Linked DNA regions of Homo sapiens: all the other regions are linked to region 6. Evidence: fine-mapped expression QTL. A gene starts in region 6. Each other region holds a variant in brackets. All regions are shown on one strand. Distances are between the middles of the regions.

Region 1 (4,090 bases), 140 kb after region 6:
CATAGTTATAATGCCGCCAGCCTTGCGGGTCATAGCCTGGAATCATCTCTTTATTAAATAATAATTAAGAGGCCCCTGTAAAGGGAATCTGGGTCTAATTACCTGAGTCATTAAGCTACCCCATTGAAACTGGGAGGCTCTTTTGCTCCTGTGGCCCCACTCTAAAGCAATTTTCACATTTCTGGAAGCAGCAAGTGGAGTCTCACTTTTGTGGGGGGCTCAGACTCAAGGTCCTGTGTTTAAGTATACACGTCATTCAAGAAGGCTCCCACCAAGCATCCAACTCAAAGAGTGAGTCCTCCCCTTTCCCATACTGCAAGATCTAAATTGGTCTTGGAACGGAGAACACAAGGAAGGGCCAAGGGACCAGCTGGGCAAGGAATCAGCTCATTAGTAGCCTCTATGGAGGTGTTGAAATTGAGCAAGTTAAAAGCATATTAGTTTAAATGAGACTTTTCACAAATGAGGGGAAGTGTTTAGGTAGGAAGCAGATGTAATCATTTTGTGATGGGGCATAATTTGATAATTAATGGAGAAGTTGTCAGTATAATCTTGAGGGAGCCCCAGGAAATGAAGAAATCTGTCTTTATTAAGGGAAACTCAGGAGAAAAAGTTATTGGAAATGCAAGTGATTCACCAGCAAGGTCCTGGTGGCAAGTCGTTATTAGATGTGCATGTTGGGACCGTCTTTCTGCCACATCTGTGTGTTTTGTCTTGATTCACCAGGCCCACTACCTCTCCTAATGGGAATGCAGAGAATAGAGAACATTGAAGGCGGTTGTGAAGCAAACCCAGGCTTCTTTCTTCCGTGCAGACGGGCTGGCCAGCGTCTGCTATGCTTAGCAGGAAAGCAGGGAGAGACAAGCCTAACTGGCTCCCTGGGGGCCAGCCAGATTTTGACTCCCTAAAGCCTGTGCAGCCAGGGTTCAGTTTCCCAGGGAGATGCTAGGAGTGTGCTTCCATGGAATATGTGAGCCCATGGAAGAGCAAGCCCAGGGAAGCACAATCCTAGTATCCCACTGGGAAAAGAGGCTGGGTGGACTCCCACTTGGCCAGAACAGGAGTCCAGGAGAAAAACCCCACAAGGGTGCCTATGCACAGTGATTAAGGCACGGGCTCTGGAGCCAGAATGCCTAGGCTCAGCTCTCCACTTGGCCACAATTTCTCTTGACATTAAGTGTGCTATTCAAGGTCTCTGTGCTTCAATTTCCTGGTGCCTATCTCATAGGGCCAAGGATGGGAAGAGTAATTCTATGTAAAGGACCCACAGCAGTGCCTGGTGCTGAAGGTCTGCTCAACAAGTGTAGTTAGCATTTGCCGTTAACTACTAGCCATGTATGGCATTTGAGCACTGGAAATGCAGCCAGTCTTGGTTGATATGTGCTGTAGGTGTAAAATGGACATAGAATTCAGACTTTGTGCAAGAAAGAGAATATAAAATATCTCATTGATAATTTTTATATTGATTACATATTGAAATGATAGTATTTTGAATATATTGAGTTAAATAAATACATGTTATGAAAATTAGTATTGCCCGCTCTTCTTTTCTTATTATAGTAAAAAACACTAACATAAAATTTACCCTCTTAACCACTTTTAAGTGTACAGTTCAGTAGTGTTAAATATGTTCACATTGTGGTGAAACAGATCTCCAGAACTTCTTCATCCTGCAACTCTGAAACTCTATACCCATTAAAAAACTCCCCATATGCCTCTCTCTTCAGCTCTGGCAACCAACATTCCACTTCTTGTTTCTAGGAATTTAGATATTTTAGATACCTCATATAAGTGGAATCATACAGTATTTGTCTTTTTGTGACTGACTTCTTTCACTTACCATAATGTCCGCAAGCTTCAGCCATGTCATATCATGTGATAGGATTTACTTTCTTTTTAAGGCTGAGTAATATTCCATCCTTTTTTTTTTAGGGTGACTATTAGAAAATGTAAAATGTATTTGTGGTTCCTATTATATTTCTACTGGATAGTGCTAGTTTAGAACTAGCGGTTCTCAACCTCATCAGTTCCAACCCCTCCTTACCACAATGAATTTGTAACACTCTCTTCACTCTCCTGAAATAAACTGTATAGATAAAATAACTCATATGCACACATAATTTTTAAAAAAGAACAATATAATAACCTAACTGTAAGTATATAGAATAAATGAAAGGAATCTATAGAGAAAAAATATATTTTAATTTACTGTTAGACATGACCACTTAATACAAAATAATCAGATGCTTCAATGAATATGTAAAATCACCACTAATGGGATAGGTATCAATGCAGAGTAGTAACTCAAATTTTAGGAGTGATGTTGCCAGCAGAAACATGATGTCCTGAAATGAAACAGCTCAGTAAAATTCCAACAAAACAAAGTACAATTTTCTCTCTATTTATATGGTTACATTCTTACAAAAATGCATGTAAATTTAAATGAAGTAAAATATATAGGTATATATGGAAACTGTAATTAGGTTCTGGGCTAAGAGACTTCAAAATAGATTTTTCACCTAAATGAAAGCCCAATGAGATATTTACAAATCAAGAGGACCC[C/A]AGAGAAATTTTTCACTTTGCAGAGCTGCCCTGTGCATTGCAGAACATCTTGTTTCCCTGTGTCACTGTATATCTATCGAAGGCCTATACCATCCTTCAACCACTGGGACAATCAAAAGCATCCCCTCTATTTTCCAGTGCTCTCCCATGGAGGCAGCAGAGCCTCCACTGAGAAGCAGCGATACTGAATTGTGAGAAACACAGTGTGGTGATCCCAAAGGTTCACTGTTCAGGAGCTGCTCGGCTTTTCTGCCCGGTGGTCTCATCCATCCGCGGTTCCCACCATGGCTTTCAGTAACTCAACGTGAGGGGAGTCCTCTGGTCCAGCAGTAACCACTCTCCAGCACAGACCAGAAGGCTAGATGCTGAAGTTTCTCCAGAACTTCAAATACAACAGACTCAGCCCTTTTCCCTGTAAACCCATGCCTTTCCTTGACATCTTAGTTTCACTGTCACCAGTGTTTTCTCCAACCCCACCCCGACCCTTACATAAGGCAGAATCACCAAAGCCTCTTCTCTCTTTGCTCATGGCCTCCCATTTCCCCTGCTTCCAGCTTCCCTGCCTCTCCCTTGGATCTGCAGGTTTCTCAGTGGCCCCTCATTGCTCTTCCTCACTCTAGTCTGCCACCGCCACTCCATCCTGTTCATCACAGCCCATGAAAACTGGGAAGCATGAGGTCAGCATTCAGTTCTTTGCAGTCAGGCCCAATGTTCCTTTACAGTCCTCCAGAAGTCTCCACCAAGAGCTCTTCCCTTTCATCTGAGTGAGAGGCAGCATAGCCTAGTGGACAAACTCAGGCTAGGATCAGCAAGAGCTATCCTGTATTGACCTAGCCCTGCACAGTCATGAGCTGCTGAATGATGGGATATGTTCTGAGAAATGTGTCTTTAGGCGATTTTGCCATTGTGCGAAACATCATAGAGTGAATGTATACAAACTTGGGTGGTATAGCCTACTACACACCCAGGCCATGTGGAATAGCCTATGGCTCCTACGCTAAAAGCCTGTACAGCATGTTATCATACTGAATGCTATAGACAACTACAACACAATGGTAAGTGTTTGTGTATCTAAGCACACCTACACATAGAAAAGGTGCAGTAAAAATATGGGATAAAAATGTTTTAATGGTACATCTGTATAGGGCAGCTCCATTATAATCTTATGGGACCACCATTGTATATGCGGTCTGTCACGGACTGAAATATGGGTTTCTTTTTTTCTTTTCCTTTTTTTAGAGACAGGGTCTCGCCCTGTCACCCAGGCTGGAGTGGAGTGGTATGATCACAGCTCACTGTAGCCTTGAACTCCTGGGCTCAAGCCATCTTCCCACCGCAGCCTCCCCAGGTAGCTGGGACTATTAGGCATGAGCCACCATGCCCGGCTAATTTTTTTTTCTGTAGCGATGAGGTCTTGCTATATTACCCAGGCTGGTCTCAGACTCCTTGGGCTTCAAGTGATCCTCCTGCCTCCACCTCCCAAAGCTCTGTGGTTACAGGCGTGAGCCAGTGCGCCCGCCCTGAAACA
Region 2 (4,090 bases), 340 kb before region 6:
GGTCAAACAGTCACAGTGAGAAGCCAGAGATATAGGGAAGGAATAGAGAAGAGAGTGAGAGTGACAGCAAGCAAGAAAGAGAGAGAAAACATGAGAAAGAAGTCATGGAAGCCAAAGAGAAGAAACACTGAAAATGCAGTTGATGGAGGCAAGTGCTTCATAAAAGTGAAGTAAGATGATGGCCTGAAAAATGTCCATTAAATTTGACACGTAGGCAGTTATTTGCGACCTTAACAAGTCCTGTTTCAGTATTGGCAAAAGCCAGGCTATAATAGTCTGAAGAGCAAATGAAAGGTGAGGAATTAGAGGTAGGAATATAGAATACTCATCAAAGAAATTTGGTTCTAAAAACAATAAGCTAGAAGTAGACAAACATAGTTTATCTCATTTTATTTTCGTTTTTATTTCTTAGGATGCAAAACTTAAACATGTTAATATGTCTAATTGTCTGAACTTTTATTTCCCTATCAATAAAATAGGGCTAATAATGACCCTTCTGCATGAGCCACTGAATTGTTGTCAGAGCAAATAAAGTAACATGGGAAAGATTCTAAAGTGCTATGTAAAGTCCAATGTTATTATGTATTTATAAATGTTGAAAGAATAGAATTATACAAGTTAAGAGTCCAGTGAAATATGGATTGGCTATAAAATCAGTGAAACATTATAATCAGTCTTAGAGGCTAGCAACAGATTCTGAAGTCCCTTGCTGGACAATTCTACTGGTACTCCTAAGTTGTAGCTTGGGTTTCCAGATGTCTTCATTATGCCAGAAAAAAAAAAAAAAATGCCAGTGAATCCTGACAAATTACTGTGCATTAAATCATTTGGGAATTTATTAGTCTTATGAGTAGTAGTTCTTAAATAAAGGTTTCTGGCAATCACCCAGTTTCACAAAGCAACAGACCAGCTCCATAATTTAAGTCTCATGACCGTGAAATCATGGTGAATGGCCACAGCTTGCTGAATATGTTATTCCAAGGGGTGATGGAGGTATTATGGGAAGTAAGCTAGCCATTTTAGGACTTCCCTCCTGGGAAGCTTAATCATCCAAAAGAATATGGTGCAATCATTATTTCACTAGTCTTGAAACCTCTAAAGACCCCGCAAAGAACATTATTTTTAGCACTATGACATCAATGTAACTAGTCGTATAACTTTCTAACATGTAGTTTTAACATGCCCCATCCTCCTCCCCTGGGAAGATATCTTATCCCTGTATAAGGAAAATGTCTCTTTCCTTTTCCCTGCACTTTTGTACAACTTTCCTCTGACTGGATTTCCTAGCTGCTGACATATGTTCCCCAGTTATTTTTATTTTCAGGGGTGTAGGGTGCTAATTAAGGTCAAGCAGCTGTGTCTCCAGTTCCAAATAGCAATTGTGCAGAATAAATAAACTTCCCTTTCCAATAGATATTAAAAATCCAATCCGGAGACCCAAATAAACCCTATCTGCTATTATTTTTGCATTTTAAAAAAATCTTAGGCCAGGCTATCACACTAAAGTTATGCTTCTTTTCCCCATGTTTCTCAAATATTTTATCCTTAACGTATGACACTGCCATAATAGCTATTAAACTAGGCTGAACATCTACATCTCAGTTTTTAGACTTTTTATCCACTGTAATACTGAATTTCATCCTAGGACTGAGGGCCAATAAAGTTATTTGGCATTACCTCAATCAAAACTACAAAGAAAAAGACAAGTCCTATGTTACTCTCAAACAATATTACCAAATATTTATATGGACCTTTGTAGATAATCATTTACAGATAATTAAGTATCTTTTTCAAGTTGACCTCATTTAATCTCAAAATTA[T/G]TTTGTACATTTATTATTATTCTTTACCCCTGGTTAACAGAAGAAAATTATGAGGCCTAGAGAAGTTTAAGAAACATTCCTAAGACCACCTAGTTGTTTGGGAGCAGAGCCAAGTCTGTATCCAAGTTCCTCTAATTCCCTAACTCTTCACTATACCATAGATGGCCCCCATCATGTCACCCACTCTCTTTTTACTCCACTTCTCTAGCAACATGGAAAACAGGCTGGCTCCCTCTGAAGTCATTAGGAATCTTTGATGAAATGCAGACATGAACGCAGTTCTTCCTCCAATGAAAATACATAATATATTAGTTATATAAGGAATGTAATGGGATCACTGTGGATGTGAAAAGCCTTAAAGCTTTTTAAAGGAATGCACAAGTGATGCTTGGAATCCAGAAAAGCCAAAGAAGATATTACAAACAAATGACCAAATGTGGAATGGGTGTGTGTGTTTGGGGGGGAAACTCCATGAACAATAAGTATTTTCATTTGAATGGTTTGTTTTTACTTCATAAGGACTTTTCCTTCACGGAAAACCCTTGTTTTTGAAAGGAATTCAAATGAACATTGTGACAAACCTGTAGATGGAGAAGGAGGCCACGGATCGAATGAGAGATGCCAAAGCCCCCACCTTGGCAGCTTCCACCGCCCCCTGCGTTCGGTATTGCACCGTCCTTGAGTAGTTGATGTAAGGTTGGTTATAAACAACAATCTTCCCTCTTGCTTCTGAGGCCCTTCTCTGCAGTTCATCGAAAGAGGTCACCACCAGAACTTCTGCTGTAATGCCTAGAAATAAAAGTCATGCAAGATTAACTTACAGTTTCCCATCAGCTGGGTTGAATTGGCACAGGAAAGGTCACATACATGCTCTTTCTGCTACATCTGGCAAACTGGTATAAGAAGATCAAAGTTTTAGAGCCATTTACCATGGGAAAAGGACTGTGGGGTTAGCCAACTTCCCAAGAGAGTGAAAAGGCATTCAAAATAATATAACATAAAAATCATAAGGTTTTTCAACTCACTTGACCAGCTGGTATTAAATCACAAACTGCTTGAAAAGATAGCTTCTTTTTTAATTCTTTCCCACCCTCAGAAGTCACAAATTTCAAAGAATGATGCTAATCATTTATTTTTAAAAATGAATTTCAGAAAGCTCTCCTTAGGATTAATGAAACACATATTAATCTTTTTATATAACTATTTTGATATGTTGCTAAACAACCTACAACAACATCATACAAAGGATGCCAGTGTGTGAAGAATACTCTTAGAAGCCAATGTTGTTCATAAATGAAACTTTCAACAAATGGTTAATGTAATCTCTCTGAAGAACCACAAAAAGTAAGCTTTCCTTCCTCCTTTGCATAGAAACATTCTTAAAGAGTGGAAACTTCCCATGCTTCCCATTTACGGTACTTGTTCATCACCAAACACATCATTATTTTTCAAATAAAAACTTTGAAGATGTTGTGTAATGGCGCTATAATCCTGTTGTCTTTGTTAGAAGAGATGTCCCTTCTTTTCTCATACCATAAGACTTGCCCACATTTTCCTGATTAGGGAACAGGGTTTCACATCTTCCAAGAAATCATTCAAAATTTGCCTGACCATTAAAGATCCAAATTGATGGAGTAGTTAGAGTAAAAGGGAAAAAATATTTGGCAACAAAGGCCAGATGCAGTGGCTAAATATATCTAAAAGAAAGAAAGTGGTAAGTGCCTAGTGTTTTGTGGCTTTAGCCATGCAGTCATGAAGTATGTCAGTAAAAAACAAAGTATCAACATATATTTCCATATTTCCTTAATATTAAAAACTAGAGAAATAAGTTTTTCTGAAAGCTTAACAAATGTTAACTGTTACTTGGAAAATCCTTTTAAAATGCACTACAGGTATGCAAGAATTTTTGCTTTCAATATAGGCCTCATCATAATGGGCCCTTTGGGCTGGCTACCCCTGGTACCATGATCCAGACTGAATTTCTATTTTCACTTTAAAGTGATTGGCTAAGATCTATAGGTATGCCTTCACCAACACTGAGAACTCAATTTATAGTCTAAAAGAAGCAATGTATAATTATGGAAACTAAGGAAACCACCAGCTTTTTTCATATAATATGCATACATAAAAATACAAATAAGAGTTTGGCTAGACAGATTTTGAGATTCATACATTTCTGAAACCTGGAGTTACCTTGAAATTTGACTGGCGTTATTGTTGGCATAGTATGGGAACTTGGCTGATGGTTTGCAGCTGCTCCTAATGAATAA
Region 3 (4,090 bases), 150 kb after region 6:
TGAGTCCAAAGGAGTCATACAGTATGAGTTCAAATATATGCCTGTATGAGTCATTATGAGTAATGACTCACAGTCATCACTCTACGCAGACCTCTCTTATTAGTCTATTAACATTTATTAAGTGCCCACTTTGGACAAGCTCCTGAACGAGGCTGTAATGTGAACACTAATAGAGGAGAGAGAAAAACCCATACATGGGGAATGGCCAAGGAATAACTTTAAGTAAGTACATATAAGTATCACTGTACTATACATGAATGGGGAGGGTGAATATATGAGTTAACTACATACAGAAGAGAACAATAAATAGTCTGGCTGTATCTTTGAATCACAGGATTTTAGAGTTGAAAGGGATCTGGGGGGTCATCTAATCCCACCTCTCACCCCAAACAGAGATCTCTTCTACAAGTATCTGTGGAAGTTCCAGTGTCAACTTAAAGGCAGTGAGCCAGTTCTTTTGATTTCCAGGTTTTTGGTTATTATAAAGTTCCTGCCTTTCATCACCAAATCTGTCTCCCTTTGGGGAATTCTCCTATTGGTCCCAATTTTCCCCACAAATCTATAGCAAATAGTCACCCTTCTCATTGCCGTGACTGCCATTCTTCACATGGATAAAGGGAAGACAAGCATGTGTTGACCACTTACTCTGCTCCAAACACATTCCAATAGTGCCACTCAATAGGGATGATGGTTTCTCATCTAAGGACTCTGAAGAGTCATTAGAGACATTAAGAGTCATTAGAGATATTAAGAAACTTGTCTAAGTTACACAGTTGGAAGTACTGGAGCAGAGATTTGAACACAAACTCACCTCTTTTCTACTACACTACACTGCCTCTCAAAGCCAGTTGTCATCACCATGCTCCTCATCTTCTCTTATAGACCATCTAAATATCCCTGGTTTCTACAGACTTTCCTTCTCAGCATACAAGTTCTCTAGACCTCTCCTGATGTTGGTTATTCTCTGAACAGGCTCCAGTTTGTCAATGTCCCTCTTGAAATGCACCATAAGACCAGAATTCAATACCCAGTGTGGCCAGACCATCCTGCCTAGCTTGCTTGCCCTGCACGCCATTTGCATGCCCAGGATGGCTTCGCTGACTTAAGAAGCATAGTAGACCTGTCACACATTTGGCTTGGGCTGATCTTGATGTAGCTGCAACCTGGGTCTTTTTCATATGAGCTGGTTTCAAGTCACATTTCATCCATCCCTTACTTACACCATTGCTTCTAATAAGTCTCAATGGGATCCTGTTGGATTCATTTATTGGTTTTGAGAGAGTATTTCAATTTGTTAAACAGCATATTCGCTGCTTCTCTGGCTTTAGGCTATCTGAACATTTTAAAAGTAAGTCTTCAATGTTGTGATACAAGTCACTGATAAGAATGTTGAACATGCCAGGACCAAGAGCAGAGCCTTGAGACATCCACTGGACACCTCCAACAGGGTGGCAATTCATCGATTAATTAATGCTCTTTCAGTACAGTTGTCTACCCAGCTGTGATTCCAGTGAGTTATTTTTAACTCCACATTTCATTTCTCTACCTCCTCACAGTTTATGTAATAAAAAGCTTTGCAAAACACCTGCTGGAATTCATCCAAAACATCCTCTTTTTTTTCCGAGTGTGTTCTGTAGAATGCTTGATCAGTGGGATGGTATTAAATAGGTTTTTTGGTGCAGGACTTCTCAGAACCTTTAATGTGCTAATGTGTCCTGTGAATCTTCAAGAGAAACTACAGTAGCACACTGTGTTTCTCAAAGTTGAGGTAGGTCCTTTATTTTATTTTATTTTTGCTTAGGTGGGATTTGTACTCTGCTCTTTGCTCATTTGTAGTATTCCCTTGATCTACCAATCTGATAACTACGTGTAAAAGCAATACAACATTAGCTCTGCATGGCTTGTTCTTAGTGAACCTCTGCTAATGCCCAGTGATCAATGCTTGCTTCTATAAAGATGGTCACAGACCACCCTTTAATAATCTGCTCTAGAATTTTACTGTGGATTAAGACCACGCTTGTTGACCTGCAGTTTTCAAAATCTATTTTTTCTCTTCTCTCTCCTGATACAATACATTCTTGTTTCTCGGGGTTTAACCCAC[C/T]ACAACTATGAACTTCAGCACCATGATATTTACTGCAACAGAAGCATGATATTTACTGCACCTGACACAGTCAGCTGCCACTGTGGGCTTCAGTTCTCTTCTATCCATGTGTGCACCGCCTTTTCTAGTTTGAATGGGATTCTCTTGATGGAGAACATATAAACGAAATCTAAACAACTCAGGTTCATGGTCAAGGCAGATTCCTGACTCGTGCTCCCTCAGATTTTCACTTTACTCACAAAAGGAGGTAGATGCCATGGGGGTAACGAGCTAGCCTGCATGTCTTGCTACAGAACTGTTCTGATTGAGAATGAAAGGGTGAAGATGAGCTTCCTAGTGGCGGGGTAGGGGGAAGGGTGTGACGAAAAAGACCCTGATGAATATTCGAGCAATGGAAACAGTCCAGAATGGCCGGGGACAGAGATGAGGGGAGAAAGGGACCAGGGACATGAGGGAGGGCCAGAGCATGGCTTATGAGCCCTGATAAAGAGAAAAGAGAAATCACAGAAGGAACTGCAGCAGTGAGAGAGAAACAGTCAGATTGAACTCTATTCCCAAGGAGTGAACACCCATTCTTTTGTCTCCTACTCTTGTTCTATATGTGGAGTTTGTAAGCTGTGCCCATTTCCTTTTAAATAATAGTCGTTTGCTTTTTCTAAACACCTCAAATCACCCCAGGGTTGGCCACTCCTGATACTCTCCTTTTGCGGGTTTTTTTTGCCACTCTTGATAAGCATCCTTGGCTGGGTGCATTCTGTTTTTGTGTATACATGCCCTTTAAAGTTCTGAACTGTTAGTCAGTGACAGAAGGCTTCAGAGAGTGGAGCAGGCTTCTGAAGATGAGAAATGTGGTGTCAGGGAAGAGAAAAAGAAGTTTGGTAGAAAGGGCACATTCCCTAAGTGTATGAAGCCCCAAGGCTGCACAAGCAATGTGTGGTTCATATTTAGTGGCTCTTGGGTGGACATGGTGTATAAGGGCAAGAAGCTAGGAGGAGGAATCTGAAGGTGGCCTGAACCCTGGCTCTGCTATCACCAGCTCTGTGGCCCTGGCCAAGTCATTGCACTACTCTGGGCCTCAGTGTCTTAACCTTTGCAATGTAAGGGATTCAACCAAGGCTTGACCCTGAGCCCCCTCCTTCAAACTTCTTCGTTGCTCCTTGTCTCCCCTGTCTGCATGTGCACGTGTTTGCATGTGACAGCTATCTCATACAGGGTGTTCTGCCATCCAGGCCACAGCCTCCTTCTTGAACTGTTTGCAAGTCAGAAGCTGGACTGCAGATACAGCATCTGGGAGCAACTCTCCTTGGATCGGAAAGAAGGTGAAAATGTGCTATTCTGTTTTATTTCCCCAGTCATCTTTTAATGGAGCCCAGACTCTGGCTTCCATCAGCAGAAGAGATCAGGAGGCAGATTATGGGATTGTAATCTTACAGAACGACGAGTCCACCTCTCCCTGTGGCCAAGTGAGTGATTCACGTTTGGCTCAGTTAACACTAGGGAGAAGTCAGATTAACACAGTTACTTGCTTGGAAATGGAGGTTGTTGCACATGGGGCTGGCTTTCTTGAGAGAACACATTTTCAAAAAACACTAATGTGTTTTGTTCAGGGATAAAATGTTCTCAGTGGTCCATCATTGCCTGTCTGGAAAGCTTGCAGTAAGCGGATGCAGGAGGGATGATCATTTAATAGCTCCCCAACCTAAACTCACCATGACAGGATAGAGTTAGGAGGATGAAAGATAATTAGTTCAGTTTGGGGAGAACCGCCAATGGAAGTGCCTTTTCTTTAGACTCTTTTTTGATCAGAGCAGTAACTAAGCCTCAGAAGACACAGAAGGAAGAACATCTTCCCTAGATGCAGAGCAGATGCAGCCCCTGGCAGCCTAGACCCTGGGGCTCAGCAAAGCTCCGGAAAACCCCCGACAAACATTGCAGTCCCATCTGAAAACCAGAGGGGCGGTGGATTCCATCAGGAAGGAAGCAGCTCTG
Region 4 (4,090 bases), 31 kb before region 6:
CAGTGGTTTCCATAGTTCTCTGGGTGCAACCTGCGTTGGCCTTCCTGCAATCTGGAAAAGATCTTCTGTCTCCCTGCCTCCTTGAAAATAGGCAGACATTTGATCCACTTTTTTAAACTTCAAGGAGGGAGAGAAGAAGTTTCTGTAACTATAAAATATTTGGTCCCTCCACTTACTGGAAATATGCCACATAACAAGAAACATGAAACAAACAATCGTATAACAACTGGGTGGTTTTTGCAACCGCTTTAAGGAGATCAGCTTGGTCCTTTTTCCTATGTAAAAGTATTTGTGATGCTTCATTACAACAAAACTTCAAGTATTAGCTTTATAGAGGCCTATTTAAATTCAGAATCACAAAAAATCAGTACATATTCATAGAATTCTAACTTCCTTATGCCCATAACAAACATAGGTGCAAAGCCACTTTGGGGAGGCCCACAGGACCGAAATATCAGGAAAAGAACCACAAGGCTAAAACATACCTGGCCCTGCACCATGCCTGGCCCGCACATCCAAAAGCCATGACTAACTCTACCATTTGACGGTTAAACTTGAAGCCGTATGCTTAGCTTTGATAAGCCTCCATTCAAGGTCTCTGGGACTGACTTTGTTCATTTTTGAAACAGGTCAATGATGCCTACCCCACAAGGTTCCTGTGCGGCCCCACCCTGACAATGTGTGGAAAGTACTCTGTAAATAATGTCGTCCCAGACCCTTTTCCGGAGGCTTTCATTATCTTAGTTTTCTTCCTGAAACCGCCCCTTTCAACTACATGAATTTATGGTCTTATTCTGATTTTATATGTGGAGAAACTGAGACCCAAGCAGTATTTTTTCCAGGAAAAGAAAACTCCAACAAATTAAGAGATGCCCTCGGAGATCAATAAAGACTTGGGAATGCAGTTTGCCAGTAAGGTAACATCTTGGACAAGTCCTTTAACCTTTCCGAGCACCAGTCTGAGTTCAACTCACCAGCCTGGAGGGTAGACAAGCTGAAGAAGGTTTTGTCACCAGAGAGCTCTAAAGGAGATGGCAAACACTGGAGGAATTGGACCTCATATAAAGCAGCAAGGGCAAGAACCTTCTCCATGCCCCCAAGCAACGCACAAAGTAAGCCCAGGCAGGATGGGGTGCAGCCTCACTCTAATGGGAAGGGGGCTCTGATAAGGAACTTGTCCAGTGACCTCAGCATGGCACTCCAGTGCCACTGGAAAACAAGGCCTGCAGGTGGAAGTGAGCACAGGTGGGAGGCAGCTGTTAAAAGAGGAGCAGAAAGGAGACTACAGCAGCACCAAATGGGGTGGCTTCCCAAGGCCAAGCACAGAAGCTTCTCTAGGACAGCCAGGATCAAGACAGTGCCAGTTCCTGCCCTAAGTGATGTCACACATCAACCGGAAGCCTCATCACAGAGTGGGAACGGACAGCCTTGAACATTTCAAGAACACTTGGGCACAGGCCGAAATCACACCTGAGGTTTGCATGCAGAAGAGAGGGAGAGCAGGGCTTCCAATCATTCCTCTGGAATGAGCTGAAAGTACAGACTACGATTTTACATTATTGTGACCCAATTATTCCAGTATCTTCATAGCTCATATGGAGATCCATGTAACCCGACAAATAATGGCCAAAGTCTTGTCTCACTCAAACTGGTTCCACAAAAAACTGCAACTGATAAACCCTCAAACCCCACATCTTCCCAAGATTGAGCAGTAAACCACACAAAAATATAAATAGGAACCACCCACTAAAGTGCACAAATGATACTATATTAGGTCTCATTGAACAGCCCAATGAAGCCTGCAGTATTTATTAGGTGGAACCACAGCAGTGCTCTGACTTGTATTGGAAAGGAGAAAAAAGGAGGAGGAATGATTTCTAAATATGACTTCAGCATGTTGATAATAAGCTTTCCGGCACTGGTTCATTACGCCAGCCACC[C/ACCC]TGCAATCATTAACCCCAGGTAGCAGTGGGGGAGCTAGGACAAAGAAACCCACTGCTTGCCCAAGGAGATTTCCTCATGCTGCCTTCAACAACAACTTTTAGGAAGTCATAACTCCCCCTTCTGAAACCAGAGGAGTTGATACCCTAAACTGGAATATATAACTGAAATTAGTTCTGACCGGTCTTAATTAAATCTTTGTAGCCAGTTGTCAGTGTGCTTGAGATTTTTCAAAATCTCTCTCTCACATGCTCAACAGATGTGGGTGGTAATCAAAGCCAAGCTGATCGGAGCTGCACAGACAGCGAGCAGCAGCTCCCCCAAACGAAAGGTCAGCCATGATAATGACATCCCCAGAGTGATGTATGTGCACGTTAAGAAGTTAAATCTCATGAAAAGAATGTCCAATAAAGCCATCAATTTTATTTTAGGTTCATCTGGCTGCAATTTCTGCCTACAGTCATCTCACTCCAGGAAAAGTCAGCACCGTGCAGGCACCTGGATTCACTTCGGGGTCTCTGGTATATGAACTATGACATTCCACACATAGTTTCCCAACGCAAGTACTGAAATATCTGTGCCCTACTTCTTAGCTCACTGTCTGTAAAACATTCCTTGCCCTTTGATGTGAAAGAAAAATACTCCACTTTACAACATTATCCTGGACTGGACTTCTTTTTTGAAAGAAGCCTAAAACAACACCACCATTGTGGCCACCCTGAGTGTCTGTGGCAACAACCAGAGAAGAAATAATCTTAAAGTTACCAACACGTTGAGCAACTTTACACCTACCTAAATCCTACTCCCCTGTATGATATTTTAAGGGAAAAGAAATCATTAGCAGAATTTCCCACAATTATCTTTGAAAAAAAATCCGCGTCTTTTTTTGGATGGATTCTTGTACCAAATACTTAAGCATTCCTCTGTCTTTAAAGCACCAGGGTAATCTGTTATTAAATGCACGTTTAAACCAACGTTTTATAACCTTGCTGCTGTTTTCAATGAGTCTCCGCCTCTTCCTACCAGGCATTTTGGGCTATAATAGCAGTCCCACAGCCACCTCCTACTGAATAATTATAATAGTGGGCCAATTAAACTAATCACCTTTCCACATATTTTTATCCGGCTTACAGATGTAAATCTCCCCCAGAATGCCGAGAATGAAAGGTTCCTCCCCAATAGCACCTAGGACTCCAAGAGTTACCCCTGGCAGAGATCCCATCCATTAGGGGCAACCTTAATGCTCAACCAAAACTAGTAAGTAACACATTCAAATATGCGATATTCATATATATTCACCACACACTCATCTTTCCTCTTCCAAGAAATCTAAAGGATTCATGAACTACTTCCACAGTACAAAAGTTTAACTTCGTGGTTTAGCTTAAGCAGCAAAACACCACCAAATCCTCTAAAAAGCAATTACCAAGAATGACAGTGCTGAACAGTGCGGGATTTTAGATGCTCAGCAATCCACTGTATGCATTTTTTGAAGGAAAAAAGATTTTAAAGAAAGATTTCAAATTCAGAGGTTTATCACTGTTGCATGAACCATTTACTATGGAGCAACTAACTGAATTAATAACTCCTCGGAGAAATTTTTCTTGATGACTCACACAGAATCTTCTGGCTCTGAAAGGGAGGATACGTTTCCATCCAAACGCCAAGTAACAAGCAGTGAAAAGGAAAAATTCCAACCCTAGGCAAAAGCAGCAGGTGGGAAATACACTCATTTGTATAAAGCTAATCCAGAAATAGCCATTTCCCCTTTCTAGATAAAGCCACAACCTGAGGAATGTTACTTCTTCTGGTCAGGGTGACAATTTGGAAGCAGTTCATGGACCAGATTTATTTTACACCTTACATCCTGAAACTGCTCTATCTTGTTCTCTAAAAATCCAATTATATAACTTAATGACTATTTCAAATATGGATCATAGATCCTTAAGCTATTTCCCTTACCTTAGTAGTTCAGTGATTTTCCCCAATAGTTTTATAATACATCCCATAAACTAGAATAACTGTCTACAGAGAAAATCACTTTTAGTTGACTCCTCTGATATCAGCACAGTACAGAGACAGCTTTGAGAAAGTGTTTCTCGATAGGGTGAAGAGACACTGCAAGCAATTGGGGACAAAATGGAGGAAAGGA
Region 5 (4,090 bases), 320 kb before region 6:
ATTTCTATATCAACACCACCTGCACACCAACTGGCATATAGAATGAATGAAAAAATTATGGCTCAAAACCATTTATTGAAAATGATATATATGTTGAGGGCAAGATTTAGAGAAATGCAAACATCCAGATACAGATTGTATATTTCATATATTAGCTCTTAGCACTAATAAATTTTTCCAAGGCAAATAGATTGCTTTCTTCAATGTAGCCTGAACATCTTAATTTGGAATGAAGCTCTTGTGGAGCCTCCATCCATCCAGAGTCCCTTCACAGTTTTGTGGCCAAAGCCTTTGGCTTTCCAGCTTCTGGTCTTTCTAGTGAAAAATATGTTCTTTCCAAAATAATTAGAAGAAGAAAGGCAGTTACTTGCCTTCACGGCATTCGTAATCTCCAATCTAAGTGATAAAGAGTTCCTGTGATTTTGTATTCCATTGACAGGAGGAAACAATAGAGCTTCAGGAAACCAATCAATTGGCTTTCTGTTCATTAAAAAAAAATTAAAATCTAATTTATTGAAATTGTATTTATTGTTTATATCATCCTTGATTTAGGTAAGTGGACAGAATAATGCCCCCCAAAATACGTTATTTGTTCAAAAAGTATTTAATACTTTGGTAAGACCTAAAGAAACTATATATATATATGTGCATATATATGTATGTGTGTATATATATGTGTGTATATATATGTATATATATGACAGTCCTTAGTCTAAAGTGGCATAAATTAATTGGACAAGATAATTTATCATATGTACCATAATGAGGCCTATTATAGTGCTGGAAGATAAGTGTCCGTCACTGAAAGAACTTGTCCTGCCCAGGTGTCAAAATTAAAAGCCTATAGGCTCTGCCCTACCCAGGGCCCTATTAGTAAGACAGATAATCTCTGGAATAGTATAATACTTGTTTTCTGGTATCTGATATACCAGGCGTTATGAGTCCTAGGCAGCAGAGTGAGCTGCCATTTTCCCACCCATTCCCACCTCCAGCCCTCTCTTTCAGAGGCCAGTTTGACTGCAAGACTCAGGCCCTGGTTTTCATCATAATTTCCTCAAGAAAGCAAGTCCAGCTCTGGCCACCAAACTGATAGTTGGGTATCCTGAGTTCCCCATTTAATTCCTACCTGTCTTTTGGGATTGGCTTCTCCTTCTAAAATCTAATATATCAGCTCACAGAATATGTTCTGATCTATAAGTAAAGTAACAGCAGGGTGTCAAGAATTGTCACATTATCCCTGAACCATCACAGTCACTAGGCAAGCACTGTCTTCTCTTCTTGGAAAGGTACCTTAGAAAGACTGTCAGTGTAGACAGTACCAGAGTTCTTTGCCTCACCCTCCAACCCCAAATTTAGTGATCTGGGTACTAATCTCTGTTAAAGTTCCCCAGGCCTCACCCCTCCCAGCCTTGGCTTATTCTCTACTTCCCACCAGAAGTGCCTAGAATATCTCTTGATTACATAGAAGAATGGTTGAGCTAGAGTTGAGGCTTGAGTTAGGAAGTGGTAAAAGTTATGCTAAGATTGGAACCAGGTTCTAGAAGGCCTCCACCTGCCATGCTGAAGCTTTTGGGCCTTTTCCTGTTGTCACTGCGGGAAAGGGGGAACACTGAAAGTTTCTGAGTAGGAGATAAACAAAATGAAATCACTTTATTT[T/C]ATAACCACATCCTTCTGACCTAACTCCACAGGACCAATATCGTAGGAAGAAGTCTCACTGTATTTGAGTGAGGACCCATATCACTGTCAGGCTTGATGACAAACATTTTGGCTTTTTTTTTTTAAACAGGAATGTTGTTTCACTCTTATAAAGAGAAGAAACAACATGTGGTCAGAAAACCAGACACCAGCTCAGCTTGAGGGAAAAACCTTCGGAGAGACTCAGCATTTTCTGCACCCAGCCTCTTATTTGCTTGTCTCTTAGCTGATCTAGTGGCAACCCCTGGTTTCCTCCCACGTGAAGCCTGCCGCTCCAGGATTTTAAGAAAGATCGTGAAGGCCCTATCCCTGTTGCCAAAGATGTTCTTATCTAAAGATCTCTTCTAACCACTCTATCATTCCCTTACCTCACCTACTTTTGTCCAGTTTTATATTTGGAACTAAGTAACAAAACAATCTGCCTAAGAACAGAGATCCTACTTCCCAGTCATACTAATATTTTGATCCCTCAAGGAATATTTTACAGCAATTACTTTCAAAAAGAAAAGTTCTTTATTATGCATGGGGCAAGAGACATACAATAACAGCATTTTTTTCCATGAACAGCCCCTATAAATTAATACTTGCTGCTTAGAGAATACATGCTTCATTTTTGAAGGTGCTTTTAATCCTTTTAAAAATTAATGTAAACTTAAATGTATTTAAACATGAATGGCTGGGAAACATTTTTGGTATGGCATATAACCCAGTGCAGGTGCCAAAGAATCTTGAAAGCAGACAAAGCTCTGAGAAGTTATGATGCTGGTTTTATTTGAGGGGAGGTGGGCAGAACAATAACTTGTGCAAAAAAGCTATCCTGGAATAAAGTAGTTTTCTTAAATGCAAATTTGCTAGATTAGAATATTAAAAAGAACCTATCTGGTAAAAATGTAATAATTCTCTATGGGTACTCCAAAGAGAATTGCCTCATGAGAATGTACAATTTTGTGTGAAAATAATCCACAAAGAAAGGAAATTTTGGATTAATATCCCAATGTCAGAATCACTAATGTGGATTTCTAAATAAAGCCCATAAACAAACATTTGGTTTATATTTCAGTTCCTCTTTCTTTCCACTTCCTCCAATTTTTACGGTCACTCATGGGAAACTCCGATTTATGTACCATAAATAAGCATAAGTATTGGATTTATTCCCCAAATATTTTCATATCCTTATCAAAAACACATTTGGATAAATATCTATACATGTTGCAAGAAGTTATTGGCCCTTGGCATATTATTTGAAAGGTGAGATCAACAAGTCAGCAAATTATTTTAAATTGCTTACCAAGACTTGAATATAGGTATAAATTACCTGGAAATAAAAATTCATTTATTAAAAATGATTATAACATAGAGTTTTTTTGTTTTCTAGTTCTACCTCATAAATGCAAACATCTGCATAATATACTATACCAGCAAAATATTTCAGTATCTCTCACACTTTCTTCTGCATATTCATTTATTTTAGTCCTGTTTTGTTTATGAAAACAGTCACATTATCTATAATATCACTTTGATGAATTGTTAATGTACATCAAAATTTATACACCCAGTTAGGTTTTCTTCCATTTTGTTCCAAATAATACAATAAAGGTTAGTAGAAACTAAAAATAATGATGAACGGAGGCAGTAAGAGTGGGTCAAGGGCCTGGTGCTTGCTCTATCACCTACAAATAAGGTATAGACTCCATTCTTCTATAATCAAGATAAAATAATTATTTTTTTAAAAGAATACGTTTATGAAATGCTAGAAAGAATATCACATAGATAACGTGCTGTAGTTCAGATTTTAAGACTTGTGGAAAACGGATCTTAGATGCAGTGAAATTCTTGATTCTTATGAAGTTCCAAATGAAGACATTAGTAGATTTCCAAAGATCCAGGACATTAATATTTTATTAGCTTAAACTTGAAAGATTTCTGTGGTAACCCAAAATTACTTTATCAGATTCTAAAAATAAGATTTAATTACAACACTATTTTGATATTTAGCCTTCTCTGGAAAACTGGATAACATTTCTCTAGATGTCTATGTTAACCTCTACTTGGCTTGCCATTTTAACATTTCTAGATGCAATGAACTCTAGTAAGTGCTATAGAGGACCCAAAGCTAAATAAAACAAGATCCATGTTTTCAAAAATTATATACACTGGTTAGCAATTGCTTCAATGAGAAATAACAGAGTGAAAGGACTGACAAGACTATAGCTGTCTCTTATGAGCAGAGGAAGTTCTAACTAGATGCTATAAGGAGTCAGGTGAACATATCAATGCAATGCAGACACTACCCTTAAAGTTGAAGGTGAATATATTTTATCCGTTTGGTTTGGTTTACATTGCTATATCCAAGAGCTGAGAAACAACACTCTTCCAATGACATAATAATAACTTA
Region 6 (4,090 bases):
GCTCAAGCTTCCACCTGGCCCGACAGAGCTCCTGGCGCCCAGGTGGAGGCAGCTGCGGACGAGAGGAGGCCAAGGAGGCAGTTCCCTTTAGAGGGCGCTCATTGGGCGACGTGGGGAAACAAGCTCCAGCCCCCGAAGCGCGACCAAAAGGAGAAATCAAGTTCCCACCGCCAGGGCGGGGGAGGGAAGCTGGGTGCCGGCAGGCGCTCCGCCGGAGACGAGACTCCTCCCGGCCCCAGAAGCGCCCCGCCAGGGCCAGAGAGGGCGAGCGTGGCGGGAGGGAAGCCTCTGTCCCCCAGCGGCCAGGCGACCCGAAGCCGAGCGCCGTGTCACACGTACCCCGCCTCGCCCTGCTTGCGGCACTCCCGTGTAACTCCTATGAAAATGTCCTCCCGTCCCTGACGCCCCGCGGTGCAACCTCCACCCCTCAACGAGGAGGGGGTCGCCGCAGGACTGGGAATCCAGTGGCCGGCGTCCCAGCATTTTCGGACGCGTTCCGTGCCTCCCCCAGTATCCCCTTGAGGGATCGCCTACTGCGATTCCACGTAGTGTCGGTTACCTCGCCCTAGCCGCAGGGAGCATCAAACAAAAGAACTTTTGCAAACTTTTCTCTCTGGACACTCGCGGGTCTCTTAAATCTGGCCCCCATCTCCCCAGAACTTGCATGCAGTCAAACAGGAAAGCTGGCGCGGGGGGGATGGTGTGCGGAGGAAGGGACCCCGAAGTTTCCAGGTCATCCCTGGTCTCGAGGAGCGCGCGGAGTGGAGCCGTTCCCTCGCGGGCCCGACCCAGGCTCCCCCCTCCTGCCACCCTTTCCCCTCCGTCCTTCCCAGACCACGCAGCAAGACCCGCCGAGGGCGAAGAAGTTGGGAGTGACTTCAGGGGCCTCTGCGGCTAGACCAAACCGCAATTCTCGGTGCCCCCATTCCCGCGGACCGCGGGGTAACGCCAGCGAGCAGCGCTTTTCTGAGGAAGGGAAGAGGGGGAAAGGGTGACCGGACGAGCGCATTTGTCCCAGCGGATCTCCGGTGTATACTTGGGGACTGGGGGTTCCCCAGGTGGCGCTCCCCTATTCCCTGCGGGCTCCTCTCGTAGCTTCAAACACCCTAAACGGCGCGCGCATCCTCCGCCTGGCCCACTCACCGACTCCGCCGACACGCAGGCCACCAAGCCCAAGGTGAGCAGGATCCACGCGCGCCGCATATTCCCCAGGGACCGGCTGCTCCCAGCCGCTGCTTGCAACCAGGGCAAAACGAAGCCTCCTGCCCAGCGCTCGGCGCAGCCCGCGCACACGAATCCGGAGCAGAGTACCGCAGCGATTGCGGCTCAGGCTCGGGGACTCGGGCTCGGGGCTCGGGGGCGCTCGCTTCCTCCTCCTGCGCCTGCTCCCGCCGCCCGCAGCTGCGCCCCGGGAACGCGGCGCCCTCTCACTTGTTGGTTTCTGCACTCCCGACACGGAGTTGGTGCTCCGGGAAGGCTGCTCTCTGAAGCTCTTCTTGCTCTGCTGTGGTTTTGCTCCTCCGCGGACTCCTTTCCCGTGCCGAGGTTCAGTTTCTGGTTTTAAGGAATAAATTCGCTGGCTTGAAAGGGAGCTACGGCAGAAGTTTAGGGGCAGAGCGGCGGGAGCGCGCGATCCGCGCGGCTGGAGCTCCGGGGGTATCTGGAGAGCAGCGCGTCCAAGCGGGGCCACTGGCTCCGCGGCTGCGCCCCTCCTCCTCCCGCGCCGCGCCTCCCTCCCCGGGTCCTCCTCCTTCTCCTCCTCTTCTTTTCCTCTGGCTCCCTCCCTCCTGAGCCTGCTTCTCCGGGCTCCCCTGGGCGACTGGGGAGAGGAGGCGGCAGTGTGACTCCCAGATAAACCCGGGAGAAATTCCTACAGGATTACACGCCGATTGGCAGCTCCGAGGACCAGTGGGCGCCGCGGCTCCGCGCTGTGGCTGCGCCGGCTCTGCTCACCGGCAAGCCAGGGCTCCTGCGTTTTCTCAGTCCTTTTCTTCCTTTCTCTCCCCACTTTTCCTCTCTCCTCTATGCTCTTTTCTTCCCCGTTGTCTTTTCTCTTTCCCTTCTTCACTTTCCCTTTTCTAGAGAACAATTAGTGAAGAAACGAGAGACGTATGTAGCTTTTCTGCCTTGAGAATTCGACCAGTAGAAAGAAACTGCTTTGTGAGTTGAGGGAAAAAAAAAGTGTAAGATGCTTTCAAGCAATGTGAAGTGTTCATAAATCGCCAGTTCATGAAAATTGCATTTTAAAAGAGAAGATAATTAATGTAATAAATATATAGTGAGAGTGTTTCCCATTCTCCCAAATCCTTCCGCACCCCCAAAAAAGGGACATGGAGGAAGGATCCTGTAAACCCAAAGTGCAACAGTTTGAAAGCTCCTAACTTCATTAAGGGCTTAAATACCATTTCTCCCTCACACACAGTTTATGCCACTAAGGCTTTTTATAGGCTCCATTTTAGCAGATAGGTGTTAACGTTTGGAAGCTACAAATAGGGTAATTTGATGAGAAGTTGGATAGAGACCCTGAATAATAACAGATTTAAGATAACTTCAAAGAAAAGAGGGATAAAGTAATTCTTAGTTTGAAGAAAATAATGAACATGTATTTCCTAAATGGAAGTAGCTGACATGAAATATTTTGTTACAATGTCTGTGGCATATTATAGAACATGGCAAATGCGTATTCCCTTCCAGTTTCTTTTTCTTACTGTCACAAATTTTACACACAAATCCCTTGCAGTTCGTGCCATCATTTTTCTCTCTGACTTATAGAGTAAATGAATTATGACGCCATTCTGCTCCTGGAATGCCCACTACAGGAAACCAGAGACTTTTCTGTCTGTTCACCATTGTATTCTCATTCCTGGTACATAAAGACACATGATAAATATTATCTTGAATAAATTTTGCTCTAAAGCTCAATTTATACCGTATAAGAGTTGTGAGCCTTTAAAATACACCAATGTAGATATATAGATATGAGGCCATGGTAATTTTTCAACTCAGTATTAGAATAAAATACAGTCATACCCTCAGTGAGAATTAAATGTCTTAGTAACCTATTACTGTAATAAATCTCAAAGAAAGAAATTTAACTGGAGAATTACAACTCAAACTTGGAGACACTTATTCCTTTGGTTTTGTGTGCCAGCTACCAAACCTACAAATGCTCATGAGCAAGTCTAAGGCATTGGCCAACAAAAAGGTAATATGGAGAAATAGAAGAGTAGGCAAAGGAGAAAGAAGAAAAAGAGCAATAGGCCAGAAGTTGTAACATCAGATGATGCTTCTGATTCCACAGACACTGTAGCTGGCATCTGTGCCAATGTGGGCTCCACTTAGCTTTTGAAAGAATGAACCACAGCCTTTTTTTTTTTTTTTTTTTTTTTTGAGACAGGGTCTCATTCTTGCCCAGGCTGGAGTGCAGTGGCCTGCACTGTAGCCTCTACCTCTCAGGCTCAAGCAGTCCTCCCACCTCAGCTTACCAAGTAGCTGGGACTACAGGCACAGGCCACCACACCAGCTAATTTTTGTGTTTTTTATAGAGACAGGGTTTTCCATTGTTGCCCAGGCTGGTCTCAAACTCTTGGGCTCAAGTGATCTGCCTGCCTCAGCCTCCCAAAGTCCTGGGATTAGACACGTGAGCCACCAGCCTAGTGCCCTTATTTTTAAGATGGAGTCTGTGGGTTGAAGAGGTTCATGAGATGGGGAGACTTCTTAAAAAGGCCTCCAAAGGAAAAGCAGCAATGCAAAATACATGCAAAGAGCCATAAAATACCAGCTCTGTCCTCATAAGAGGCCTCGTCTACTCGCCAGCCTTCAGGCAAGGCCACACCTCCATTGTCCCCAACAGTTAAGTATTCATCAAATAAATTGGAATTCCAGTAAAACAGGAAGTGCACTCCACTGATTTGCTGGTTCTCACAGTTATTGCTGTTTACTGGGGCACCCATGTAACAAGAAGCGTGGTGAATGCTCTCTGATTCAGCTTGGGCAGACAGTGATAAAAAATGAATAAGTGGATACACGTGTTGAAGGGATATTATCTGTTTGCTGCCCTGAAGGCACACCCCAAGGCTCTTGGTGTTGA

The links. PIP is the estimated chance that this variant, and not a neighbour inherited with it, causes the effect. A credible set is the group of variants that fine-mapping cannot tell apart.
Region 1: its variant is the best candidate, but not a certain one, in a credible set for the expression of SDC2 in monocytes (TOPMed, PIP 0.66).
Region 2: its variant is the best candidate, but not a certain one, in a credible set for the expression of SDC2 in whole blood (TOPMed, PIP 0.53).
Region 3: its variant is the best candidate, but not a certain one, in a credible set for the expression of SDC2 in whole blood (INTERVAL, PIP 0.76).
Region 4: its variant is the best candidate, but not a certain one, in a credible set for the expression of SDC2 in whole blood (TOPMed, PIP 0.77).
Region 5: its variant is the best candidate, but not a certain one, in a credible set for the expression of SDC2 in whole blood (TOPMed, PIP 0.52).

What each region holds. Positions count from the first base shown.
Region 1 is chr8:96,355,659-96,359,748 of GRCh38, reverse strand. No RefSeq gene overlaps it. Among named protein-coding and RNA genes, the nearest start is that of PTDSS1, 96 kb to the right of the region's middle. The variant C/A (reference allele first, on the strand shown) is at 2,563.
Region 2 is chr8:96,833,492-96,837,581 of GRCh38, reverse strand. CPQ (carboxypeptidase Q) reads right to left here. Exons shown (of 8, transcript NM_016134.4): 3 at 2,402-2,609. Among named protein-coding and RNA genes, the nearest start is that of CPQ, 190 kb to the right of the region's middle. The variant T/G (reference allele first, on the strand shown) is at 1,821.
Region 3 is chr8:96,345,293-96,349,382 of GRCh38, reverse strand. No RefSeq gene overlaps it. Among named protein-coding and RNA genes, the nearest start is that of PTDSS1, 85 kb to the right of the region's middle. The variant C/T (reference allele first, on the strand shown) is at 2,102.
Region 4 is chr8:96,522,506-96,526,595 of GRCh38, reverse strand. All of the region lies in intron 1 of SDC2 (syndecan 2), which reads right to left. Among named protein-coding and RNA genes, the nearest start is that of SDC2, 31 kb to the right of the region's middle. The variant C/ACCC (reference allele first, on the strand shown) is at 1,941.
Region 5 is chr8:96,810,589-96,814,678 of GRCh38, reverse strand. All of the region lies in intron 2 of CPQ (carboxypeptidase Q), which reads right to left. Among named protein-coding and RNA genes, the nearest start is that of CPQ, 170 kb to the right of the region's middle. The variant T/C (reference allele first, on the strand shown) is at 1,657.
Region 6 is chr8:96,491,385-96,495,474 of GRCh38, reverse strand. SDC2 (syndecan 2) reads right to left here and starts at 1,662. Exons shown (of 5, transcript NM_002998.4): 1 at 1,144-1,662. The coding sequence starts at 1,203.